3 linked regions of the Homo sapiens genome follow. The protein of the gene in region 1 purifies or fractionates together with the protein of each later gene. This does not show direct contact. Each region holds a gene or a part of one and is shown in the gene's direction. Other genes may lie near its edges. The genes, in order: CYB5R3, VDAC2 and VDAC1.

Region 1 (3,648 bases):
TGCGATTTGCCTCTGCTCACACGTGTAGGGACGGGTCTCTCCTTGAGGCAGCTGCTCTGTGCTGGAACACTGCTCAGGTCGGAGAGTTCTCGTACTGAGCCGAGATGGGCATCTGTGATGTCCTGCCCTGTTGGAGAGGTCTGTTGTCCCCCTCTAAGTGATGACACCATCCACATGTGGACTTTGCCACGTTTGGATGTAAGCGCCTCTGCAGCGCCGACCTTCCGCATGGCTTCTTCACACTCCCTCTCCTGGCCATGCTGGGTACTGGGGACCCCACAGGGAGTGCACCCTCAGGACGCTGGGTTTGGTTCCAGCTCCGACTGGAACTGATTATGTGATCGTCCCTGGCCTGAGCGTAAGACCCACTTAACAAGACCTCAGGGGTTTTAGTCTCAGCTCCTTCCCTGGCCCAATCTGGCTCTTAGCCAGCCCCCCTCCTCCTCTGCCACTGTCCCAGCCACTGACCATGCCCTGGGTGCCCACCCTGTGCAGGGTGGAAGCCTGGCTTTGGGCTCTTGGAGTTCCTGGGCAGGGAAGGCTCCCACTTTCTGCCCTGTGAAGCCCACCTCAGTCCTGGCTGCCCCATTTCCCAAGGGGCTCTCAGGTGCAGTGGCTTCTGCAGCCCCTCTCTTGGGATGCAGGCCTGGGCACGTGCAGCCTTGTCTAGCTCTGCCCCAGTTTGCCCATCCAGCCCTCAAGTTCTTCCTGCCCCTTCAGGCCACTGCTTGAGCTGATGGCAGAGATGGATTCCTCCCTCCCCGTCCTGTCTGGCATCCTCCCTTTGGGACCCTGGGTTCATTCCCTGTTCTGGCCACCTTGTTTGTGGCCCCTCTAGGCCAGCAGGACAGACACACCCAGCGTGCGCCTGGCCTCAGCACCTCACACGCAGCGTGCATGTGTGTGCATCTGTGCTTGGCGTCGGCGTCACGTCTTACAAGGACAAGCAGGCACTGGGGAAGGGTGGGGACACAAAGGAGGAATGGGATGGGGGCTCCGAGGCCTGGGAGCCGCCCTGGGAGGCCTCTGCCCTGGGGACCGTTCAGCAGCTTTGGGCCTCTCTCCAGATCATCAGCCATGACACCCGGCGCTTCCGCTTTGCCCTGCCGTCACCCCAGCACATCCTGGGCCTCCCTGTCGGTGAGTCACGCCCCTGCTGGGCCCATTCGGAGCCCGGCAGGCTGCTGGGGCACTAGATCAGAGAGATGGAAGCTTTACATTTCCACCAGGGAGAGCAGGGAAGCCTTCAGGAGGAGGTGACAGCTGCCCTGGGCCTTTGAGGGCGAGTCTGTTGGAATGAGAGTGGGAAGGCCCAGAGTCCCTGGCAGTGGCACCAGCAGGAGTGAAGGCATGGAGGCAGGAAGCTGGGACGTGAGGGGAATCCCCGGGAGGGGTGGGAGGGGGCCGTGGGAGCTGACGCCAGGCCAGGCTTTGAATGCCGGGTGGGGTGCAGGGGAGTGGGTTGACAAGACCCAGGGGTCACCCGCAGGATGATCTCTGGCCCAGAGTGACCCCGTTCTGTCCTGCAGGCCAGCACATCTACCTCTCGGCTCGAATTGATGGAAACCTGGTCGTCCGGCCCTATACACCCATCTCCAGCGATGATGACAAGGGCTTCGTGGACCTGGTCATCAAGGTGAAGCCTCTGGGTCATGACTGTGGAGGGGGTGTGGGTGGGTGGCCATGGCAACAGCCCATGTGGACCCCCTGGACAGGGAAGTCTCCCGCTCCTGCCCTGTGCAGCCCAGCCTCGGTCATGGCTGCCCCACTTCCTCAGGGGCTTGCAGGGGCAGTGGCTTCTAGAGCCCCTCTCGAGTCCATGTCCCCCCGCAGCCCGGACTCCAAAGACCCAGTGCTCCCTTGTGCCTGGTTTCTGAGTAAATAGCACGTCATCTTTACCAACAAAAGCCAAAGAAGGGGGTCTTGGCAGAGAACAGGGGCCAGGGTTCAGGGCAAGTGCCTTCAAACAAGGACAGGTACCTGCAGCAGAGGCTCCAGGAAGGCCGGCTGGCGGTACAGACGCCCCTGCTGCGAGGTGTGACGGCGCAGTCCCGTCCCTGCTCTCACGCTGGGAGATCCCTGGGAGTTGGGTCCCGAGTGTGCGGGGTGAGGCAGCCACTCCACCGTGGTCAGCGGCCGGGCCTCTGTGACACGCAGGCCCTGTTCTTACCCGTTTCCCTAAGAAATGTCCCTCAGGCCTGCTAGGGAAACATGTGAGGGGCTCGTGTGGTGTTGTCTGGGAGCTGGGGTGATGGGCTTTCTGGGGTCTGCTGCGGGGTTCGAGGTGGAGGTTCACAGGAGAAGATGCAGGCGTTAGGGGCAGCAGCCCGGAACCTGAAACACACATGCCGAGTGGGAAGTAAGAGGCAGCATGACGGCCCCAGCAGGGACGTTTTTATGAAAATTAGAAATACAAGCTTTCAGCCAGGCACAGTGGCTCACACCTGTAAGCCACTTTGGGAGGCCAAGGCGGGTGGATCACCTGAGGTCAGGAGTTAGAGACCAGCCTGGCCGACATGGAGAAACCCCGTCTCTACTAAAAATACAAAAAAATTAGCTGGGCATGGTGGTGCGCACCTGTAATCCCAGCTACTTGGGAGGCTGAGGCAGGAGAATCACTTGAAGCTGGGAGGCAGAGGTTGCAGTAAGCCAAGATCATGCTACTGTACTCCAGCCTGGGCAATAGAATGAGAGCCAGTCAAAAAAAAAGAAATACAAGCTTTCCTGCAGAACAGAGGGTGAGAAGCAGCCTAGACCAGTGGGTATGTGGGGTGTTGGAGACCCTCCCCAATCAAGGCCAAAGCCCTATAGCCTCCCCAGCCCAGCACCCTCAGGTACCCCTGGAGCCCCCTTACTGGGCCGTAGCTGAGGCCCTTACCTTGCCAGGTCTGGGGGCAGGCACTGGATCTGAAGGGTGGGAAGGGCCCTGGCCCGGGCTCCTTCCTTGCTGGGGCGCCCAGGCCTGGCCTCAGGAGCCCGTCTTTGGCTGGAGGACGGACACTGGACACATAGTCATGGGGAAGCCAGTGCTCCCTGCAGGGGACAGGTACCTGCGACCGAGCTTCCAGAAGGGCCACCAGGGATGGGTGGGGTTGGCTGGTGAGAGTGGCTCCCTAGCAGGTGACAGTGAAGGTGAGATCTGGGGCTGAGTAGGCACTGACCAGGTGAAGAAGGAAGAAAAGGAGCTTCAGGTGCAAAGGCCCTGAAGTCAGCAGCAGGCTCAAGGATTGAAGTGGCTGGAGGGTTGGGGCAAGGGGTGGGAGAGGTCAGTGGGGCCAGACGGGGCCTTGGAGGCCCCAGTAAGGTTTGGGGCTTTGTCCAGAAGCACAGAGGAGGTGATGAGGGCTCAAGCATCTGTTCACGTTGAAGTCTCTCTGGCCAAATGTGGAGAAGCTATTAGGAGGATTCAAATTGAGGATGAAAAACTCACAGGTGACCAGGCCTCTCCTGGCTTGGAGACCTGGCTGGCTCCCTTGGTCCTTGATAAAGGTTAGAGTCCTGGCCTGGCACCCAGGGCCCAGGACAGTGTGCTCTGCCTGCCTGTCCGTGGCCCTCCACTCCCCTCTGCCTCCACACCCCATAGCCACCCTCTGTGCTGAAGCCACAACAGGCTCCCCTCCCTGAGGCACTGTGTACACGCTGTCCCTC
Region 2 (3,648 bases), on another chromosome or scaffold:
GTACCAACTACCAAAAACTAGACAAAGCAGCATAGGGATAATTCTGCCCTTTATAAGCCAGTTTACAAAAGACGAATTTGTAACAATTTCATTTAAATATTGTATATTAACACATTTTTATCCACCTCTGAATATGTGGAATCTTTTTGTTTTTTATGTATAGTCAACAATTGCTATGCATCTTTCATACAAAGGAATCATTTTGTTTCTTTTGCTGTCTATTTGTTGAAGGTTTTGGGTTGGTGAAACTGGATGTGAAAACAAAGTCTTGCAGTGGCGTGGTGAGTGTTACTGTTGAATAAGTTCTATTGAACCTTTATAATTTTTCAACTTGTAAAATGGTCATAACTGAAAGATGTCTACCTGTTTTGTCTTAAAGAAGAGGCAGAAGTTAACTTTGTTTTAAGAGATTTGCGTGTAACCTGATTTATTTTGGCCTTGAATGTGATTTCTGATTTTCATGTGGTCTTTCGTCATATTATGTATGCACAAGGAACTTAGGAAAGACCAGTCAGGTGGTACTCTTTACTCGTAAGATTACACATTTGAAGGCAGGGAACCCATTATTAGACTTTTTTGTAACCCTTTGTCAACAATGCTCGTCAGAGTTATGGGCATAAAAATATCAGGAACTCATTAATTTGAGTGTACTAATCATTTATATAATGTCCATTTTCTAGCAGTTCTCCCTGGAGAAGATTTCCACATGTATTTTATGAGTTTAGGGAGTCCTGATCTGAATTTTTTTTTTTTGAGACGGAGTCTCACTGTGTCACTTAGACTGGAGTGCAATGGTGTGATTGTGGCTCACTGCAACCTCCGCCTCCTGAGTTCAGGTGATTCTCTTGCCTCAGCCTCTCTAGTAGCTGGAATTACAGGTGCCTGCCACCACGCCTGACTGATTTTTGTATTTTTAGTAGAGCTGGGGTTTCACCATGTTGGCCAGGCTGGTCTCCAACTCCTGACCTCAGGTGATCCACCCACCTTGGCCTCCCAGAGTGCTGGGATTACAGGTGTGAGTCACCATGCCCAGCCAAGAATATTTTTAAAGAGGTTAATATTTTGGTATTTGGGTGTCTTGATAGTTCAATGAACTGTTTACAAAGGGGATAAACTAATATTTAACTTTTTTCGAGACAGGGTCTCACTCGGTTGCCCAGGCTGGAGTGCAGTGAGTGCAGTGGCACAATCTCAGCTCACTGCAGCCTCGACCTCTTGGGCTCAAGCAATCTTCCCACCTCAGCCTCCCAAGCATCTGGGAGTACAGGCCGTATCCATCATGCCTGAGTATTTTTTGTAGTTTTTCTAGAGATGACGTTTTGCCATGTTGCCCAGGCTAGTCTTGAACTCCTGAGCTCAAGTGATCCACTTGCCTTGGCCTCCCAAAGTGCTGGGATTACAGATGTGAGCCACCATGCCCAGCTAGTAAAATTTAACTTTGTGAAATTTTTTTTACTTAAAAAATTTTTGTTTTGAGATTATTTTAGGGGTGGGTGTGTGTGCACATTAGAATACTATAGGTTATTTTGATATATGTATGTATGTATATATATAGAGAGAGAGAGACTTTTTTTTTTTTTGAGACGGAGTCTTGCACTGTCACCCAGGCTGGAGTGCAGTGGCATGATCTCAGCTCACTGCAAGCTCCACCTCCCAGGTTCATGCCTTTCTCCTGCCTCAGCCTCATGAGTAGCTGAAACTACAGACACGGGCCACCACGCCCAGCTAATTTTTTTGTATTTTTAGTAGAGATGGGGTTTCACCATGTTAGCCAGGATGGTCTCAATCTCCTGACCTCATGATCTGCCCACCTCGGGCTCCCAAAGTGCTGGGATTACAGGCGTGAGCCACCGCGCCCGGCCTATATAGACATTTTTGATGTAGTGCATGTAACTGATATTTATTTAATCGTATTGTAGTTTTTTTGTTTTGTTTTTTTTTTTTTCCTCTGAGACGCAGTCTTGCTCTGTCGCCCAGGCTGGAGTGCAGTGGCATGATCTCAGCTCACTGCATCCTCCACCTCCCAGGTTCAAGTGATTCTCCGGCCTCAGCCTCCCAAGTAGCTGGGATTACAGGTGCTTGCCACCATGCCCCGCTAATTTTTGTATTTTTAGTAGAAACAGGGTTTTGCCATGTTGGCCAGTCTGGTCTTAAACTCCTGACCTCAAGTGATCCCAAAGTGTTGGGATTACAGGCGTGAGCCACAGCGCTAGCCCTGTAGTTTAAAAGCCTAGGCCTGTTGGATTTCTGGGGATTTACATTGATCATATCTGTCGCTTGGTTTTTTTGGTCTGAAAGGAAGCTTAGGTGTTTAGTTATGATTGGATGACTTATTTGGCCAAGTTAACAGGTTACAGAGCAGTGATTTTTAGTGTTTTTTAATGTTCCCATTGTTAGTCTATTGAGGCCCCTAGTGTATTTGTTGAAACACAAAAGGCCTTCTAAAAAAGATTCAGTCCTTGTGTTTAAAAAGCTTACTTTCTAGTTGGAGAGACAAAATAAACTGAGAGTACTGAGGTAATTAATATCAAATATTAGATCGTTGGATAATCAAATCTTTGTTGGAAAGGAATAGATTGTTGTGTATAGGGTTAGGGAAAGTTTTATGGAAGTAGGTTTAAGAGCATGAAGGATATGTAGGAGCTGGATTAGATATAGCATGTTTTTATTCACATTTAATACATGTAACTCAACAACCATGGTATTGATCCTATAGTATGTCTCTGGCCCCAGATAAGTCCCATTAATACCTGGCTCTGTTTTCTTACCTGAACAGCAAAGCTACTGAAGCCACCCCAGAATGTAGAAGCCAAAATTTCTGGTGGTAAAGGGTATGAGCTGTAATCTGGCCCAACTCTGGTCCCACAGGGTGGTGTTGGCTTTGTTTCTTGAGGCTTCCTTGGCATGTGTATATAGGCTGGCTCTTGATCTGTGGGCTGATGAATGGCCGTAGGTGGGGCCCCAAGAGTCATTAATGTCATTCAGGATTAAAAATAGCTACTCACACATTCCCCATTCAAACTGCTAGAAAAACCTGTTCCATATATATTGTTTTAGTAATGCTTTCCTTTTCTGTGGAGCATATGAAAACGTACAAACTTTCACAGTGTCAGTTCAATTTAATCATTCGGAGGTAGGCTTTGTAATTATAGTTGCAGAAACAGACCCAAAAAAGTTAAGTGAGGCTGGTCACAGTGGCTCATTCCTGTAATCCCAGCGCTTTGGGAGGCCAAGGCAGGAGGATCCCTTGAGCCCAGGAGTTCTGAGACTCACCTGGGCAACATAGTGAGACCCCGTCTCTACAAAAAAATTTAAAAATTAGCTGTGCTTGTTGGTGGGTACCTGAAGTCCCAGCTACTTGGGAGGCTGAGATAGGAGGATCGCTTGAGCCCAGGAGTTTGAGGCTGCAGTGAGCTATGACTGTGGCACTGTACTCCAACCTGGGCGACAGAGTGAGACCCTGTCTCCAAAAAAAACCGCAAAATGTTGTGTCCTGCTCAGTGTGATGCATTTAGTAAATGACACGAAGAACTGGACATCAGAACTCCTAATTTTTATATCTAGTGTTTCCTAACATGATCCAGTGCTTTTTTGTTTAATTGGAAATGGAGTCTCACTCACTCCATCACTCAAGCTAGAGTGCAGTGG
Region 3 (3,648 bases), on another chromosome or scaffold:
CCCAGGCTGGAGTGCAGTGGCACGATCTTGGCTCACTGCAGCCTTTGCCTTTGGGTTCAAGTGATTCTCATGCCTCAGCCTCCCAAGTAGCTGGGATTACAGGCACTTACCACCACGCCCGGCTAATTTTTGTATTGAAATTCTTTATCCTTAAACAAATTATTAGTATACACAAACAGCTTAAATAATGAAGCAGAACAAAAAATGAAAATTCGATTTGAAGTGCATTCCTTCCCTAAACCTCCTTCTCCAGAAGCGTATCTAAGCCAGCCCCAATTTGCAGATTGGCTTGTATCCTTCCACATGCTTTCCCATCCATTCATGAACATAGAAAGATGTGTAAAAAGGTTTTCCTCCAATTACATGGAATTACAAATTTTCTGACTTTTTTCATTTAACTGTATCATAGCTAGCTAGCTTTCTTTCTTTTTTTTTTTTTTGTTTCGAGACGGAGTTTTACTCTTGTTGCCCAGGCTGGATTACAATGGCGCGATCTCAGCTCACCACAACCTCCACCTCCCAGGTTGAGGCAATTCTTCTGCCCCAGCCTCCCGAGTAGCTGGGATTACAGGCATGCGCCACCACGCCTGGCTAATTTATTTTGTATTTTTAATAGAGACAGGGTTTCTCCATGTTGGTCAGGGTGGTCTCGAACTCCTGACCTCAGGTGACCCGCCCACCTCGGCCTCCCAAAGTGCTGGGATTACAGGCATGAGCCACTGCGCACGGCTATCGTAGCTTCATAGCTAGCTTTCTATGCCACCACATACATCCACCTTATTCTTTTTTTTTTTTTTTTTTTTTTGTGAGACAGTCTCGCTCTGTCATCCAGGCTGGAGTGCAGTGGCATGATCTTGGCTCACTGCAACCTCTGCCTCCTGGTTTAAGCTTGTGCCTCAGCCTCTCAAGTAGCTGGCATTACAGGCGTGCACCATCACACCTGGGTGATTTTTTTTTTTTATTTTTTTTTTATTTTTAGTAGAGACGGGGTTTTGCCATGTTGGCCAGGTTGATCTGGAAGTCCTGGCCTGAAGTGATCCGCCCACCTCAGCCTCCCAAAGTGCTGGGATTACAGGCATGAGCCACCCACCTTATTCTTTTTGATTACCATATGGTACTCCTTAGTTTGCAAGTATAGTACCTTAATTTTTATTCATTCATTTTCCTTTTGATGGACTTTTAGGTTGCTTCTGGGTTTTGTGTTACAAATACTGCTGCAGTGAGCATCCTCATATACACATCTTTGAGTAGTGCCTTGGTTGCTACAGTGGGGCAGGTTCCTAGAAGTGGAATTGCCACTAGGGTTAATGCTGGGTTAATTGCTCTCCAAAAAGAGTGTACCTGTAGTACTCCCCCTTGGCGTGAACAAGAGTGACTGTTTTCCACACCCTCACTGACACTGGATATTATTTACGTTTTTGCCAGACTGCTGGTTAAGTGAGCTTCTGAAACACAGATGTGGTAGTCACTCAACAGTGGCTCTTGGTGGCCCTTAGAATAAAATCCATGCATGGTATTGAGGTCAGAAGCAACCAGTGCTTCTGATGGCACTTGGTCTCCTCAGCCTGAGATCAGCTCTCCTTAGGCCGAGGTGGGAGCAGGCAGGGAGTGGAGGTCATTGCTAGTTGAGGGTCTCCCCAACTCCCCCACTCTTGGTGATGCTGCAACAGTGAGCCTGCAGAGGGAGCTCTTACTTCCTGGTTGCATTGTAATGAGTTCCTATTGTCAGATTCCAAGTTTCTACTTTTTTCCCCATTGCTAAATAATACTTTGATGCTCATTGCTCATTCACTCATCAAACACATTTATATTGAATGCCTATTATGTGCCAGGGCTTAGCATCTTTATATACGTAACTTTTTCCATATTTTGGATAAATTTATGCATGACAGGCTCTGGGGTGCTTTGAATTCAAAGAGGTGATTTTGGGGGTAGGTGTATGGGGTAGGGTGGGGTGGGGGCACGGTGAGCACAGCAGCTGTCATTGCCATTCAGCTGATGAGCCAAGAAGGATGTGTACCCCCAAGACAGAGGTTACGTAAGTATTATGCAGACTGTGCTGGGTGATAGATACACTATCCTTCCCCTCTGTGCTTCCAGTATGGGCCGGATTTTCATTCCTCAGCTGGAATGGGGCTTGCATAATTTGTTCAAGGTCAGCCAAGGAAAGGTTGGGTAGGTAGACTGGCAGGCTGTGGAGGGGAACCAGGGACTCCTGTATCCTGGTGTGACTTGCTGGTCCTTCTCAAAGTCTTCAGTGACTGCAGGCAGGTCTGCTCAGCCTGGCCCTGCCCATCCCTCTGTTTCCTACCAACCAGTGGGAACAAAGCCCCCAGGCTCTGCCCTGAAGCCATCACTCAGGCAGAGAGGCCTGTGGTTCTGACTCCCCCAGGACGCCCTCTGACTTCTGTCTGTCCAGGGCTAGCTGCTTTGCCGATGCCAGACTGCCCTGCTTCATGCGCAGCCTCTAGAGGCTCAGCTTGTGAAGGCCCCTGGGGGGTGGATGCTGCAGAGACAGCTGTGTATCAGTAGCTAACTGTACAGGCTCCGATTTGGAGCAGATCTGGGTGGAAGGAGTGACTGGGAGGGGTGGGGGCCAGGGTTCAGCCTTCAAGTCAGCACCCTGGCAGGGTGTTAAGTGAAAGCAGGCTTTGTTGCCGACTTTTCTTTCCTCCAGTCCTCGCCTTAGAAAATTAATGCAGATTATTATTTCTATCATAAAATTGTCTCTGAAATGGGTTCGAGAGCTGTGTAAAAATGGGCATTTTGGGGGTGCTGTCTGTAGCTGTAAGAAAGCTGAACTTCTCGGAGCGGCAGAGCTGTCTCGGGCCTTCCTTAGTTCCGTCAGATCAGTGCAGCAGGGGATGGGCCGAAGTGCACAAAAAGGAGGGGAAGCTACCACTACCTGGCAGTTGGGGGCCTTTAGTGAAAGGGTGAGTCATCCTTTTGCTGTCCTCGGTGGTGTCACTTCAGGCCCAGGAGTGGACTTGACTCCATTCAGCCAGTGGTTTCTGTGAGTCTTCCTTGCCAGGTGCTATGCTGGGGAGAATGCTTACTTGGGGGCCCAGAACGGGGGAGATTATGCTTCATTGTCGGTGTTCAAGGAGATGGGGAAGAGAGCAAGACACAGATGAGAAAGCCAGCATCCAGTATGTTTACAGTGAGGCATTGGATAGGGATATGTTTTAGTGAACCAGCAAGTTCACTTGCGTGCTGCTGGTACCAACTACATGGTTGTGTTGTGGAACCCCACAGCCCCAAAAGAGCTTGGCCGTGTCGGAGCTCCTAGAGGCCCCAGGAGGGGTCCGGTCTGCTCTTCTGAGCTCTGCTCTCTGAGTGCCTTGTCCTTGGGTGGTAATCTCTTTAGTGGCCTTGTACTTCAGGCTGATGTTTGCTGTGGGTGGGGTGTTTTTTGACAGGTGGCTGTGCTTGTTGGATTTTGGGGATTAGCGATGAGAGAGGGCATTTGGGGAACATTTAATGGATGAGTGCTCTGCCTTTATCCTGAGCGGGGACCAGTCCAGATGTGAAGGCTGCTGTGTCTGGGAGGCGTCTCTTCTGTGGGGTCAGGGGAGAGTCGTGGGGAAGGCTCTGGCTCCTAAGGTCCAGGGAGGTCTTAGGTGACCCACAGATATTACCACTGGACTG

What was found.
Region 2: the proteins of CYB5R3 (region 1) and VDAC2 purify together in Homo sapiens (affinity purification with mass spectrometry; 2 studies listed by BioGRID and IntAct, with this or other methods). This does not show direct contact.
Region 3: the proteins of CYB5R3 (region 1) and VDAC1 purify together in Homo sapiens (affinity purification with mass spectrometry; 2 studies listed by BioGRID and IntAct, with this or other methods). This does not show direct contact.

What each region holds. Positions count from the first base shown.
Region 1 is NC_000022.11:42,628,870-42,632,517, reverse strand, and holds part of CYB5R3 (NADH-cytochrome b5 reductase 3), read left to right. Parts: intron 1-1,067; coding exon 1,068-1,140; intron 1,141-1,529; coding exon 1,530-1,636; intron 1,637-3,648. UniProt on the Homo sapiens protein: Catalyzes the reduction of two molecules of cytochrome b5 using NADH as the electron donor.
Region 2 is NC_000010.11:75,213,790-75,217,437, forward strand, and holds part of VDAC2 (non-selective voltage-gated ion channel VDAC2), read left to right. Parts: intron 1-231; coding exon 232-281; intron 282-3,648. UniProt on the Homo sapiens protein: Non-selective voltage-gated ion channel that mediates the transport of anions and cations through the mitochondrion outer membrane and plasma membrane.
Region 3 is NC_000005.10:133,994,865-133,998,512, reverse strand, and holds part of VDAC1 (non-selective voltage-gated ion channel VDAC1), read left to right. Parts: intron 1-3,648. UniProt on the Homo sapiens protein: Non-selective voltage-gated ion channel that mediates the transport of anions and cations through the mitochondrion outer membrane and plasma membrane.